Linked DNA regions of Homo sapiens. The protein of the gene in region 2 purifies or fractionates together with the protein of the main gene of each other region. This does not show direct contact. Each region holds a gene or a part of one and is shown on either strand. Other genes may lie near its edges.

Region 1 (7,025 bases), on a different chromosome or scaffold from region 2:
GGAGAGGATGTCTCTAAAGGATCAGGAAAGGCCCTGGAAATCCAAATGTCACTGCCAAGGGTGGGGGCTGTGAGGGGTGCACTGCATGAGGTGGGGGTGGGAGTGAGTTGGTGGTGACTTTGGGAAGGAAAGGGTAGGCCAGACTAGCATTGAAGCCACATGGAAATTCAGATTTAAGAAACAAAAGAGGCAGCCATAAAAAAAGAACGAAATCATGTCCTTTGCAGCAACATGGAGCTGGAGACCATCATCCTAAGTGAACTAACCCAGAAACAGAAAATCAAATACCACGTGTTCTCATTTGCAAGTGGGAGCTAATCAATAGTATACATGGACATGAAGACAGAAATAACAGACACTGGGGACAGCTGAAGAGGGGAGGGTGGGGTGAAAATTACCTATCAGGTATAAGGGTCACTATTGGATAACGGGTACACTAAAAGCCCAGTCTCCATCACTACACAATATACCCATGTAACAAATATGCATATGTACCCCATGAATCTAAAATAATTAAAAAAAAAAAAAAGGAATAAGAGAGAACCTTGGTTGAGTGCGGTGGCTCCTGCCTGTAATCCTAGCATTTTGGGAGGCTGAGGCAAGAGGGTTGCTTGAGCCCAGGAGTTTGAAACAAGCCTGGACAACATGGGAGGACCCTGTCTATAAAAAATTAGCTGGGCATGGTGGCACACGCCTGTGGTCTCAGCTATTTGGGAGGCTGAGGTGGTAGGATCACTATAGCCCAGAACTCCAGCCTAGGTGACAGAGCAAGACCTTGTCTTTAAAAAAAAAAAAACAAAAAAAAAAAGATGAAGAAGAAGAAAAGAAGTTCCAGGTAACGGGGGTAACCAAACAAAAAACAACATCTAAGAAAGAGGAATTTGGCATCTATATACTTGGGAAGCGGAAAAAGAAGGGGAAAATCAGTGCCTGTGTGTGTTGGGGAAGGGGGTGCTGCTATGGTTGTCTTGAAATGCCTAACCTTGTTTTTACTCTAACTCGCTACTTTGAATTTTATCCTGCTTGTCTCTTTAATCACCTAGCCTTGCTTCTCCTGTAAATAAGACTCTTTCTAGCTGGGAAAGCCAGACAAACTCCAATTGACCCCTTAATTTACAAGACACTAAGGGCTCCTTACCCAACCCCCTTCCGCAAGGAGTTGACCTGTGTAAGCAGATCCTCAGCGTTTCAAAGGAGCCCAATTAACTGATAAGGTACTAGCACCAACAATGTATGAAGTTCCCAGGATTTTTCTTAAAGAGATAACAACATAAAGCCTTGAGTTCGGGTCCGACATACTCCCTATATCTAATTATAATGAAAGATTTAGAGCCTTGCACCTGGTACCGTTGCTCTTTTTGTAACCATTTGTCTTTTAAATTGTTTATCTCTCTGTAACCATTTTGCTTCTTTTGATTCTTGCATGTTTTTACTTCTGTAGAATTATTGCATCTGAGTCCCCCTCCCCTTCCTAAACCAGGTATAAAAGTTAATCAAGCCCTTTCCTCGGGGCCGAGAGAATTTTGAGCGTTAGCCGTCTCTTTGGCCACCCGCTTAATAAAGGACTCTTAATTCGTCTCAAAGTGTGGCGTTCTCACTAACTCGCTTGGGTACAACAGTCTGACATGAGGGACCTGTGCTGAGAAAGAAGAGTTTCTTACTACCCACTATTCAAAATGTAACCAATAAATGGCACCATCTAGAAACGAAGAATCTCAACCCCCACCTTAGAACTAAGGAATCTTATACTGCCTTTTAGTCAGACTGGCAGGCAATTCATAAGCACGTTAAAGTTTGAGAAGCATTGTGTTAGAGCAAAGAATTCAGGACTTCGTGCTTGGTTGGCCATCAGCCACCAGAATAAAGTAAAGTCACGAGGGCGGTCTGGGCTTGGAGAGCTGGGCCCCCCGCCAAGACCCTGAGAACAGAACATTACAGACGTGCACACATCTCTACCCCTCTGCCTGGAATATCCTATTTCATTCTGTGCTTCACAACTCAGAGGCCTCTTTAAGAAGGCTTCCCTGATGTTCTGCCAGCCCCCTACTTCCAGCCTCCCACTTCTACCCCCAAGAGGTGTTGATTCACCCCCTCCTCAGTTCTGTGCCCAAACATCACCCACATTTCTTCTGATGTGCTTGACACACTGGTTTGGACCTGTCAGATTTCTCTCCTTTGGTGACATTCTGCAGTTTATCTCTGAATCTCTCATACCTAGCACAGCGCACCTCTGGTACAAAGCAGGCTCACCACAAGTGCATGCTGAAATGAATTCAACAGAATTGAATTACAGAGACAATGGCTTATGGACAACTAAAGTTCTTGGGACAAACAGGAAAGAACCTGCCACAGGCCTGCTTCCAATTCTTTAATTTGACAAAGTTACACATTACTGGATGACAGTTCACAGAACAATTAGGAGGAAAACCACAGCTCTTATCTGCTTGCTGTAAACAAGAGATTTCCCAGAGCCTGGAACAACTTCTGTACCTTTATGCACTTCCAAAATGTTCCTGGATTTCTGACTTGTGTTATGACTCAGGAGCACATAGAATGGTCTCTGATCACAGATTTGATGGGCATTTCTGCGTCAGTATACAAAGACCAGTTTACATCTATCCCACAAATGGACTCTGACTCCTAGGACACATCAGTGCATTCACAAAGTCCAGGGCCCCTCACAGTCAGCTCCACATTCTTCCAACACACCCCTGCCACACTCAAACAGCCTCCACCTTCCCACTGTCCAGTGATGGGCGTTTGGCATGTTTGCTCCTAGGCACAAGAGAATTCAACTCAACTAGACTCAACATTTATTTCCAAACATTTATTCAGTACTGACCTGTTCAATAAATGGCGATTTGGGAGGACATAAAATGATACACAATCCTCAAGAAAATATGGACCTGGTACACAAATAACAAAAAAATATCAAGTGGGAAGGTGAGGCAGCTTGGGCAATGTATGGGCATGAGGCTATGGTGGTGCAGGAATAACAGCCAGTCTGGGTAGCCACAGAAGCACCCAGAAGGAAGTGGCTTTGGAGCCGGTGTAGGACACAGGAGGCAGCATGGACAGGCTAGGCTGGGATGGGGCCAGCTAAGCTGGGAGACAGCAGGCTGACTGGGGCAGGTGTCAGTGCTGAAGGAACCCTGAGAACTCAAACCTCTATGTTCCAAAGACCCCCATCTCCATACCTCAAGTTCAAGGGCTGGGTACAAGATCCAGACCTCAAAACCCCCATAAGTGCTGTCTTCTGACCTCCCACTGTGATCCTGAAAGTGTGAGCAGAGATTCAGCCCTCTGGGGCAGTGGACCCCATCCTCAGGCACTGCAGCACCATGCTGAGAGTGTTATCAGGACCAGTGGTGAGCATCAGGCCTCTCCATGGACAGACCGCACCCAGTGGGCCTCTAGCAGCCCACTCTTGTGCCAGAGAGAAGCACAGAAAATTCACTTCCAGGAATACCTGGAGAGCACACAGGCCTAGCCTCTTATCCAAGTCCCCTGGGCTACAAAGCAACTCCCATCCTGGCATGTCTTGAAGCACGTACTACTGTGACTTGCTGCACAGTGAGCAGACCCTGAATTCTGAAATCACAATTTTTCCTACACACAAAAAAGGACAATCAAAGGAATTTTAATTTCTAAACAGAAATGATGCATTTTCACATGGGTCTCTAAGATTGCAGAGGTATGGAGGCCAGCAATCCTTCGTACCTCTGCAGCCAGTCGTCTTAGAAGCTGTCAGTAATGGCCTAATTTCATTCACTCAACAGTCTTGTGATGCAAAGATTATCCTGTTTAGCAGCTAACACTGAGGTTCAGAGTTCAGTAACTTCCCTGTGTCACAGAGCCAGCAGGCAGCAGTACTACAACCTGGACCCAAGTCAACAGGAATAGGACTCCAAAGCCTGAAAGACTACCTTTCCTCGCCACACATTCAGAAGTGGGTTTACATCTGCTGTAATTGTTGATTAACAAAGAAAAGAAGAAAGAAGTCGGTCCTGGAGATCCAGGAGTATGATTCCCTCTGTCTTAAAGAGAATGTGTTTTTAATCACCTTGTTTTTTCAGTCATCGTGTACAGTCAAACCATGTTTACTCTAAAGGAAATTTACCATACACCAGATGTTCCTTCTCTTTCCTCCCCCTTTCTATCCCCCCTTCCATTAAGGAAAGGGTCAGTTTCTCTGAAACAGAATAGTAGGGTTGTTTACAGAAGAGCCAGCCCCCACCTGACACAGCTATAGCATTCAGTTCCCCACTGCTGGGCTTATCTGATCCACCCTCTCCCACAGAAGGTGAAGTAGGATAAAGCCACAAACAAACAACAGCTGTGGCAGCTCAGAGTGGCAGCTCTGGTCTGAACATGGGTGCAAGAGGACGAGACCCAGTCGGGCTCCCTAGGCTAAGCTGAATCAATTCCTCCCCAGGCCCCATTTTTCTCAACTCCATGAGGAAGTTCCTAATGATCCCCAGTGACATCCTATGAGTCTAACAAAAACAGGTCACTTTGGAGTCAGAACATTCTAGGCTCCTCAACACTGCCCCCACCGCCCCAAATTCAGTTTCCAGCTTCGAGACCCTGTCTCTTTCCTATACAAGGCAACTCCCTTCCTCAAACGGTCTCTTACCCCCAACCTCAGACGCTTCAAACTTGGGAACAAGGCACTCACCATACACAGCGTCCACACCTCTGCTTCTCTTGACAAAGAAGTATATCCAGGGGTGAGCAGACGGGCCTGGGCAGGCGGCAAGGGGAGGGCTGGAGGCGGGACTAGGTCCCTAGGCTCAGTCACTCCATAGGCAGGACCAGGCCACCCAGAAACCCTGGGGCTCCTTCAGCTGCCAACAGTCAGTCTCCAGAAAACATCTAAATGGAAAGCTGCCAAGGCCCCCTAGCCCTTCAAAAAGTTGAGCAAAGCTTTGAGTCATTTGCAGTCATGCAGATTATAACATTTCCCAAGTGCCACCAGACTCCTCTGCTATCCGGTGCAGACTAAAGAAGCAAAGCTCGTAACACAGCCCACATGTCATACTAGCGCAAATAAAAGAAGATGTCCTTTTCTCTGTGGCTCCTCGTGCAGCCTGCTCCCTTGCCCCATTCCTCACCCCAGGCCTGGAAAGTCAGCTGGCACCTCTGAGGCCCCTCATCTGCTGTCTATTCTTTACCTCCTTTTGCTTTCCCTTCCTTTTCTGCCACATCGGTGGCTTCCCTCAACCCACACTCCCTTCCTGGGTGACTTCCAGCACTTCTCCCACCACTTTGTTATTGACTTCCAAGTTCCTATTGCTGTTCTGACCCAAAGTTTCCACTTGGGGGTTTTGTAGGTGTCTTGGTTGTACCACATCCAAAACTAAAGTCGATTTCTCTGCTGGAGTTCCATGGCTCAGTAGATGGGGGGGCAGGGAGGGGGGACAGTGGGGGACAGGGGTTCACATTTTACTGTTCATTTGCCTTCACTGCCTACATCGACTCAGGAAGTTCTGTCCATCTTCTAAAATGTATCTGCTACCCATCCTCTTCTCGACCTCACTGCTGCTGCCCAAACCCAGGATCCTATAACTCTGTCCCTAGCCTATTTCAAGAACCACAGAATGAATCTGGCTTGGTTCTAGTCTGGTCCTCTATAGTTTATTTTCCAAGCCGTAGTCAGAGCGATCCCAGCACACCCCCACCTGATTACACCTTTCCCTTGTGTTCAGACTCTCACTAACAATAAACTCCTCAGCAAGCCAGCTGATGGGGCCCTCCACAGCTTGGCTTCAGCAAGTGTTGCTCATGTTGTTTCCTTTGCCCGGGATGCCCCCCTCTGACCCAGGCCAACCACGTAAATGCCTACTTATTCATAAGGCCCAGCACACATAACACTTCCTCTCCAAAGCCTTTCCTGAAAGCCCTGACAACTGACTGCTCACTGACCTCTTCTATAGCGTGCATGTGTGTGCGCACACACCCATAACCCTGCACAATGCACAAATGAATTGTGTAAATTTTAGTTATTTACATGTCTGTCTCCACAATATGTTGGCACAATGTGTTGTCGTCTTCATTCCTGCATCCCCAGCACTCAACACAGATCCTGGTAATTATCAGGCATTAAATGTTAATTAAATTATCTGAATTTTACTCTTAGAATTCCACAGTGAGGCAGACTTGGAACTTATAACTACTCAATTCCAATTTCAGTTCAGTATGAAAGGCAATTTTGGACAGGGCTGGCTTGATATTAAAGAAAACACTCTAGCTTGGGACTTAGGTAACCTTAGGCTGGGTCCTCGCTCTACTGCTCACTAGCAGGGCAATCTGACTTAAGGTATGAAGACACTCGGGGCCTGGATCTCATCATCTATACAGAGGAAGGAACTCAAAATTCTATGAGGTTGTCTTAGCTCTGACATCCAAAGACTCTAAAGTACCATGTGACTGCAACTACAGGGATCTGATGTCTAGAAAGCCATGGGAACCCCTGCCACCACTGTTCTTCTGCTGGGTGTGCACATTCACCCTGCCTCCTTTGCTGGGCCTAACTCCTGACTGTTCCAGGAGCTGCCTCTGGGCAGGAACTGATAAAGTCTTAATGAAACAAAGTATCAGCACTGGCTGAGTTAAATCATGTCTGAAACAAGTAGAGACAGCATCATATTCTAAACATCAAGGGTACACCTGCCCAGCCCAGCCCCACCCAGGGAATCGTCCCTCTTCAGAATGAGCTGGCCTGAGGCAGAGATAGGGGAGAAGCAAGAAAAGGTGCTGAGGGAGACAAAAAACTAAGAGTGCACATGGGCCTCCTTGCCTCAGGCCCTCAGTGAACAAGTCTTGAAAGGATGCTTCATCTTCCTTCTCTGGTCTCCTCTGTTTCCCTCTCCTTCCCTCAAAGCGCTGGTTCAGCTCATTTTACTGAGCAAATGAAGAAACTAAAGCTCAGAGAAGGAGCTGGCTAGTCCAAGGTCACATGGGCAGGGCAGGTTGTCAGTGGCTGCACTGGGACTCAGGTTTGGGTCTCCCAACTTCCAGTCCAT
Region 2 (7,496 bases):
TATGCACCTAGGCATGGAGTTCCTAGGTCTTAGGGCATGTGAATCTTCAAGTTTCCATGACAGTGCCAAACTTCTACCAAGTGGTTATACCAATTCACATTTCCACTAGCAACAAGTGAGAATTCTGTTTGCACCATATCGTCACCAACACTTTTTATTGTCAGACATTTTATTTTTGGCCAATATGATTTATATAATATGTGATGTATTATAGCTTTAATTTGCATTTCTAAGATTTCTAATGAGGTTTGGTACTTTTTCATTTATTTATTGGTCATCTTATATTTCCTCTTTTATGAAGTATCTGCCTGTATCTTTTGTCCATTTTTCTACTGACTTTTCTTACTGATTTGTATGAGTTCTGAAGATAATCTGGATGCTTGGGCTGTGGCAGTTATATGTGTTGCAAGCATCTCTCTGGTTTTGTTTCCTATCTTTTTATTCTTTTAAATATGTCTTTTGATGAACACAAGGTCTTCATTTTAAGGCAGTTGAATTTATCAATCTTTTCCTTTATGAACTCTTGGACTAAGCCTGTCTTCTAGCTATTGTTTTCCGCCTATGTCTCCAACTGTCCCCCCATCTTTGATCCCCCCATTGTCTCCATATAAACATCTTTTCTATGCTCTGGACACATGACTTCAACTGCTCACTCGATGGCTCCACCTCCATATCCCACAGTCAGTCCAACACCAGTTTATCCCAAAATGAACTCATCCCTCCAAGTTCACCTTCCGCCACCCTACCACCCCTAGCTTGTATTTCCTAACTCCATGACTGACACAACTATCCACCAATCACAAAGCCAGTGTCTTGTGAATTTGCCCTGACTGCTCTTTCTCTTATAAGGATCCAGTTTTTCTGATTCTACAATCTAAACCTTGCCCCACTCTGTCTTCTCCTCTACATCTCCAGTGCCAGAATGTAAGTTCCATGAGACCAGGGACCTTGTCCAGCTTGTTCATTACCACAATATCAGTAAGGGATGGTGCTTAACAGCATGAATTTTGCAGCCCAATTACCTGATTCAAATCCTGACTCCATCAATTATTAGGTATCTAAGTAAGTGGAAGTTATATGACCTCTTCTCCCGCAGTTTCCCCATTGGTAAAATGGGGGATGATAATAGTACTGATTCATAGGGTTGTGGTGAGGGTTGAATCAGTTAATGCATGTATAGTATTTAGAAAAGAACAGGACACATGGTAAGCACTCAATAAATATTGACTATTAATATTATACCCTACCACCTAGCATGGGATGGGGTATAATATTATGCATCAAAATATATTTTAAGCATCAACAAATATTTATCATCAAAAAACTAACCATCAAATAATATATATCAACAGAGATGAATGAATGCCACTGCTTTAATTTAGACTCTTATTATCGTTGCTTAGACAATTGCTGTAGCCTCCTAACTGGGCTTACTTTCTGCTAACCATCCCATCCCCCATTCCATTCATTTTACACACTGCCATTAGGGTTATAACTTCTTGTCTATAAATATGAAGGTGTGGTGCCACTCCATTGCTTAACACCATCCAGTGGATCCCCAAGCCCTACAGGGAGGCAGAGCATAGCCCAGACTCCTCAGCAGAACACATGTGCATGAACGTGGGATCTGGTGATTGCCTACCTACCTCTTCAACCGCCTCCATCCTTCACACAACCTGCGCTCCATTTACCAAACCACTGGCAGTTCCCCAAATGAGCCACATTCCTTCATTCGTCTCCTGCCCAGAATGCCCTCCCTCTGTCCCGTCCAGGTGACAAAGTCATCTTTTTCTTTTTCACCAAGTCCCAGATATAGGCACTCCCAGGCAGAGTTAGATACCTATATTATTGCAGCATTTATCAAATTACACTATAACCATTTATTTACATGTCCAACCCTACTCCCCCAGGCTGCAAGCTCCTGAGAGCCAGATCGTATTTAGATTTGTATTTCTGGCAAGAAGCACAAGGGCTACGGAAGCTTAATACACATTTGTTGAATGGATGGTTAGTTTTAAGAAGTACCTAATAAACCTTGGTATTTGTATTTCCTTGAATCTTGTTTTGGTTGCTACCTTTTTTAATGGAAATAGTCACTACTGCTTATGTTTACAAGTTTATTGAGTTCTAATTTTATCTTTTAAGATAAAGATTGCTGATATCATTCATTCACTCATTCATTCATCAATAAATATTTATAGGGAGACACTTGTCAGATACTGGATTTGAAGTGAACAAATCAGACATGGCCCCTACCCTCGTGAGGCTTACAGTCTATTAAATCTATTAAGTATGAAGGACAGGCTGACCTTGAACCAATAAACATGTCCATGTAAAATCATAAATTGAAATGAGAGTTGTGAAGGAAAAGAATAGGTTATAAAGAGGAAGAATAATGGGAGGGACCTAATTTAATTAGAAGAGTTAGGGAAGTTCTCTTTGAAGAAGTTACATTACAGGGAACACTAAAATGTGGGTAGGAGTGAGCTACGCAAAGTCATGGAGAAAGAGTATTCCAGGTAGAAGAAATAGCATGCGTGAAGACCTTAAGCAAGTGGAAGGCAGCTGCTGAGGCTGGGGACTGGGAGGTTGGGGCTGGAAGCAGACAAGCCTAGAGAAGTTGTCAGGGGCTAGACGATGGGGTTTTGACCTAGAATATAAACTTTGTTTGTAGTTCATAGGGAAGACATTGAAGGTTTAATATATGGGAATGACGGGAACCTCTGGCAGGGCTCTGCCTGTGAGCATCACATAGCACCCCGAGGATGTGTTTGCTACTCTAGGTTTCAGTGGAGAAAAAAGCAAGTGACAACCCTTCTGTTCCTGCTCAGCAAAAGCTTTGATCACCAGCCCCCTTCCCCTGAATATACTGGAGAAAAATAACAGAAGTGCATTTCAAGGTCCACATGTGAGAAGACCCTAAGCTGTCCTGGCTGTTCAGGTAGAAGTTGTCATCTTCCTCAATGATCTCGGCTGTTGGAAGACATGGCCAGGCAGACAGAATCTAAAAGTTCTTCCAGGTGTGACATGAGTCCCTGGAGCTCAGTGACAGAAACCAGTGTCCAAAACCAGATGCCACCCTGGGGAGGGGGCTTTGGGAGTTCCTGGGAGGCCATAACACCGTCTGGAAGGCTCCTCTCTCCCACATATTCACAAAGTTGCATGATAAGCCAGGCCCCTGCTGGTCTTGCAGCATCCACCTATGATGCAGAGTAAACAGTGCCACACGTCAAGCTGTCCCCAACCTTGCCCTCGGTTCCACTACCAAAAGAGGGAACACTGGGCTTGCCCCAGCAAGGTGTTATTTATGTCAGGCTAGGGCCACTGTGGCTCCCAGCTCTTACTGCTTTCTAGGTGCCCTTACAGACTTCCCCACTGCCCCCTGCATATGCCAGAGTGTGAACATCCCCTCCCTCTCCACAGCCCCCACAGTGGGGTTCGGGTGGGCAGGGAGGTGGTTTCATCCCTCTACATACAGCCCTTGGAGACCTACCTAGGCAATTTGTCACTCAGGCTTCAAGCTGCCAGCCGAGGAGGGGAGCTGAGAAGACTCTATAATGAGATCTTTGCACTGTAATTAAGTGCCAGGCTTTGTTTTACACCTATCTTTCCCGCCTTGCCCGATCCCACCGCCAAGCTCCTCCAGGCAGTGAGTGGGGAGTGTCAGCTGCTCTGTGATTACACCCCAAGTGGCAGGTGGCAGGGAGCTCCTCCGCCTGCAGTCTGCGCCCCACCCCCAGGCTTCCCCCACCACCAGTCTTAACTCAAGACAGTGCTATTTCTGTCCTTGAACTGGGTTTCACCCCAGAAAGCCACTCCACCGCTTTCTCATAAGGCTACCTCCTTTTAACCCTGTGGTTGCACGGCCTCTGGGGTGTCCATTTCTTTCTTTTGACACGTCCCTTTTCCTGAAAGTTTCAGCAAACCCCATAGGCAGAGGGAGTTAGAAAAAGGAAAAGAGAAGTTAGGGCAGGAGGAGCACTGTTCTTATAGGACAGGAAGGGTCTGTCTTCTCTCTTGGGTCCTCCACACAAAATCGGAGCTTCCAAACACCCCAGCTCCCAAACATATGCAGCAGATTCTGCTGACAGGAATGTGTCACTGTGATCTTCACATTTTAGCCTGAAGTTTAGCCTACCTGAAGAAGCACCGGAGTGGGAGTGGGAGAACATGGGATGGTGCTTCTCTTTGGCCTGGCTGTGCTTTTGGACACTTCAGGTCTTCGGCCTGGGTTTCCTCCTCCGTACGATGAGGAGAGGATGGGAGGGGGCAATGCTGGCATGTGTGATCTCGATAGACACTGTGGAAGTCTGCAGAGACCGGAGCATAACCTCTGCCTCCTCTCCCCGGGCCTAGCCTCTCACAGCCCTCAGAGAAAACCCTGAGCTGCGGCGTGGCCGAGACGGGGGCGTGGCCTGGCAGGTGGGCGGGCCCTTCCGTGGGCGGGGCCGCGAGGTTTTCAGGAGCCCGAGCGAGGGCGCCGCTTTTGCGTCCGGGAGGAGCCAACCGTGGCGCAGGCGGCGCGGGGAGGCGTCCCAGAGGTGAGCGCCCTGCAGCGGCAGGGGATGGGCCGGGGGCCCTAAGTCGTAGGCAGCGCGGGGCGGGGACGCGGCTGCCTGCGGAGGTCGGACTCCTCTCCGCCCTCCTCCCGGGCTGTCCGGGTCTATTTTCCAGTCTATGTCCAACTCGCGCCGCCTCACTAGGCGGCGCTCTCTGCCCCGCGGCACCCGCGAGACGTGGGGTCCCTCGGCCCAGGGACGGGGTGAGCGTGTCATGTGGGTGCCCTGTGCCCGGCAGGTTGGAGACGAAGAGACCTCGGCACAGACGAAGTCACTCACATCCTCGCTTTGAAACAGAGCGGGTCCTTCTTGTGCTGTCTCGCTGTCACTCTCGCCCCCACCCTGTGGAAGAGGCAGGTGGCTTGTCCCCAGTCACTTTCTTCCTTGGAAAAGGGAGACAGAGGGCCATCTCCAGCAGGGCCATGGAAATCCCAGAAAGTCACTGAGCTGCTCAACAAAAGGCCCTAAACACCCCACCCCACAGCACCAGGCAGTGCACACTGGCCAAGACTCCGTGGTAAATATTGCTGGCCTTTATGTTGAGAGGGGGAAAAAAAAGCCTGCCTGTGAAGATCATTGCCCAGTGGCCATGCTCCTGTGAAAACACAATTGGAAAGCCATTTCCTAAGGGGCGAGGGTGGGTCTGGGACCATGCTGTGGCTTGGGTGATTGGTGGTTGCAGGAGTGAGGGTGCTGCCCTGGGAAGGCGCTGAGGCCCTGTTGGGTGGGAATCGACGGCTGCGGCTTTCTCCCGGAGGAGGGAGAGCGGTGTTGTTACCTAGTGTTGGGAACACATCCGTCCAGCACCGTGAACTGCAAACAAGCAGAGTAACCCTAGTGTCCTTCAGATACTGTTGCTGAGCAGTCACCTAGTCAATGAGATGATCTGTTTGGACGGCAAGTGCATCTGTAATGCCGCCCTCTTGCTCAGTGCCTGGAAGAGGCATTGGTGACTCCCCGCTAATGCTAGGGGTAGCTACCGTGCAGGAGCAGTCAGGCTCTTGCAGGGCCAATGTGGTTTCATCAATTTTCTCCTGCATTTACCCAGCCCCTCCGAATTCTGAGAAGTGCGTCCAAGATCTCTTGGACTCCTTGACTCAGTTCACCCTTGTTCTTGTGGGCAGAAAACAATTCCCAGTGTGCCATGCACAGCCAGTCAGAAGGGAAGCCCTGGAGCAGGGCCCTGGGAGAAGTTCTGTGGGGCTGGATGCTAATTATTCAGTTACTGGATTGTGGGGAAATTCCAGGGGAGGTCCCAGAGGAGAGACCGTGCTAAAGCTAATTACTAAGCAGTACAAAAATAATCTCTCTCTCTCTCTTTCTCTCTCTCTCTCTCTCTCTCTCTCTCTCTCTCTATATATATATATATATATATATATATATATATATATATGTAATTTTTTTTTTGAGACAGTCTCACTCTGCCGCCCAGGCTGGACTGCAGTGACACAATCTCGGCTGACTGCAACCACTGCCTCCAGGGTTCAAGCGATTCTCTTGCCTCAGCCTCCCAAGTAGCTGGGATTACAGGTACCCACCACTACGCCTGTCTAATTTTTGTATTTTTAGTAGAAATGGGGTTTCACCATGTTGGTCGGGCTGATCTCAAACTCCTGACCTCAGGTGATCCGCCTGTCTTGGCCTCCCACAGTGCTGGCATTACAGGTGTGAGCCACTGTGCTGGGCCAAAAATAATCTAAATTTCAACAATCAGCATGACCATGCCTGTGCGTATGACCCTAATTATCAGTCTGACTGATTCTTCCTTCCAAAATGATGGCAGAGGATCACCTCTTTGGATATTTACAGCTCTGAGCAAAGCAAAAAGCATGTAGGTGCCATTGTCTGAATGCAAAACCAGCCATGCCAGGTTTTCGGTGTTGTTTCTGAGGAGGGAGCGCCTCTCTGGAGGACGGTGTTTCCAGAACAGTGCCTCCGTTGTTCATTCCCGTGCATCAGGAAGTTTGGCTCTGCTGAGTGTTGAAAGCAAAACTCTCCTGTTTATTTGTCTCTGTATACTAACAGACTTAAACAGCAGACAGCACTGGAATGTCCAGTTACTGCATCCAGATGTGTTTGTTTCACTCTTAACATTGTGGAAAAGAATGCAGAAGGCAGATCCAAAGCTTCAATCAGATTTCTGAAGCTTAAGTGATTCCCAGCCTTGGTCCCTTAATGTGAGAGCAACAGCGTATAGTGTCTTCCGCTCTCTGGGACAAACCCAAGTTTGAGGCATAGTCCCTGCTGTCCAAAAGCTCCTAGGTCTAAGTAGGAAGACAAAACCAGCACCTGTGAAACAATTAGAGCGCAATTAAGTGCGAAAGTATGTGGCAGCATCTGCTAGCTCAAAGAAGACAGCTAGTGCAGACTGACTGGGAAAGGAAGAGAGAGCTTCACAGAGCCAGCTGGTGTTCAGCTTGACTTAAGAATGACCATCAAGGGCTTGGCCAGGCCTAGGAAAGGAAGCATGAGGATATATGAAGCTCAGAATAATGAAAGGCACTTGCTGCCCAGAGCCAATTCAAATTCCTGCCTTCCGGGAATTCTGGCTGTGGGTCCTGCCACTCTCTTCCTCACCCAGCCATGATGCCCTTCTTATAGCATTCTAACCATGCCTTTTTTTTTTTTTTTGAGACAGAGTCTCACTCTGTCACCTAGGCTGGAGTGCATTTGTGTGATCTTGGCTCACTGCAACCTCTGCCTCCTGGGTTTAAGTAATTCTCCTGCCTCAGCCTCCCAAGTAGCTGAGACTACAGTCACGTACCACCATGCTCAGCTAATTTTTGTATTTTTAGCAGAGATGGGATTTCACCATGTTGGCCAGGCTGGTCTCGAACTCCTGACCTCAGGTGATCCACCTGCCTTGGCCTCCCAAAGTGCTAGGATTACAGGCGTGAGCCACCACACCCAGCCTGACCATGCGTTTTTTGTGTGCCT

The links. Proteins that work in one complex are often made in the same cells at the same time.
Region 1: the proteins of TLR5 (region 2) and PRXL2A purify together in Homo sapiens (affinity purification with mass spectrometry; 2 studies listed by BioGRID and IntAct, with this or other methods). This does not show direct contact.

The regions. Positions count from the first base shown.
Region 1 is NC_000010.11:80,411,530-80,418,554, reverse strand, and holds part of PRXL2A (peroxiredoxin-like 2A isoform 1 precursor), read right to left. Parts: intron 4,723-7,025; exon of another isoform or gene 4,682-4,722; coding exon of another isoform or gene 4,679-4,681; intron 1-4,678. UniProt on the Homo sapiens protein: Involved in redox regulation of the cell. Acts as an antioxidant. Inhibits TNFSF11-induced NFKB1 and JUN activation and osteoclast differentiation. May affect bone resorption and help to maintain bone mass.
Region 2 is NC_000001.11:223,140,241-223,147,736, reverse strand, and holds the start of TLR5 (toll-like receptor 5 precursor), read left to right. Parts: upstream 1-4,488; 5' UTR 4,489-4,541; exon of another isoform or gene 4,542-5,076; intron 5,077-5,973; 5' UTR 5,974-6,089; intron 6,090-7,496. UniProt on the Homo sapiens protein: Pattern recognition receptor (PRR) located on the cell surface that participates in the activation of innate immunity and inflammatory response.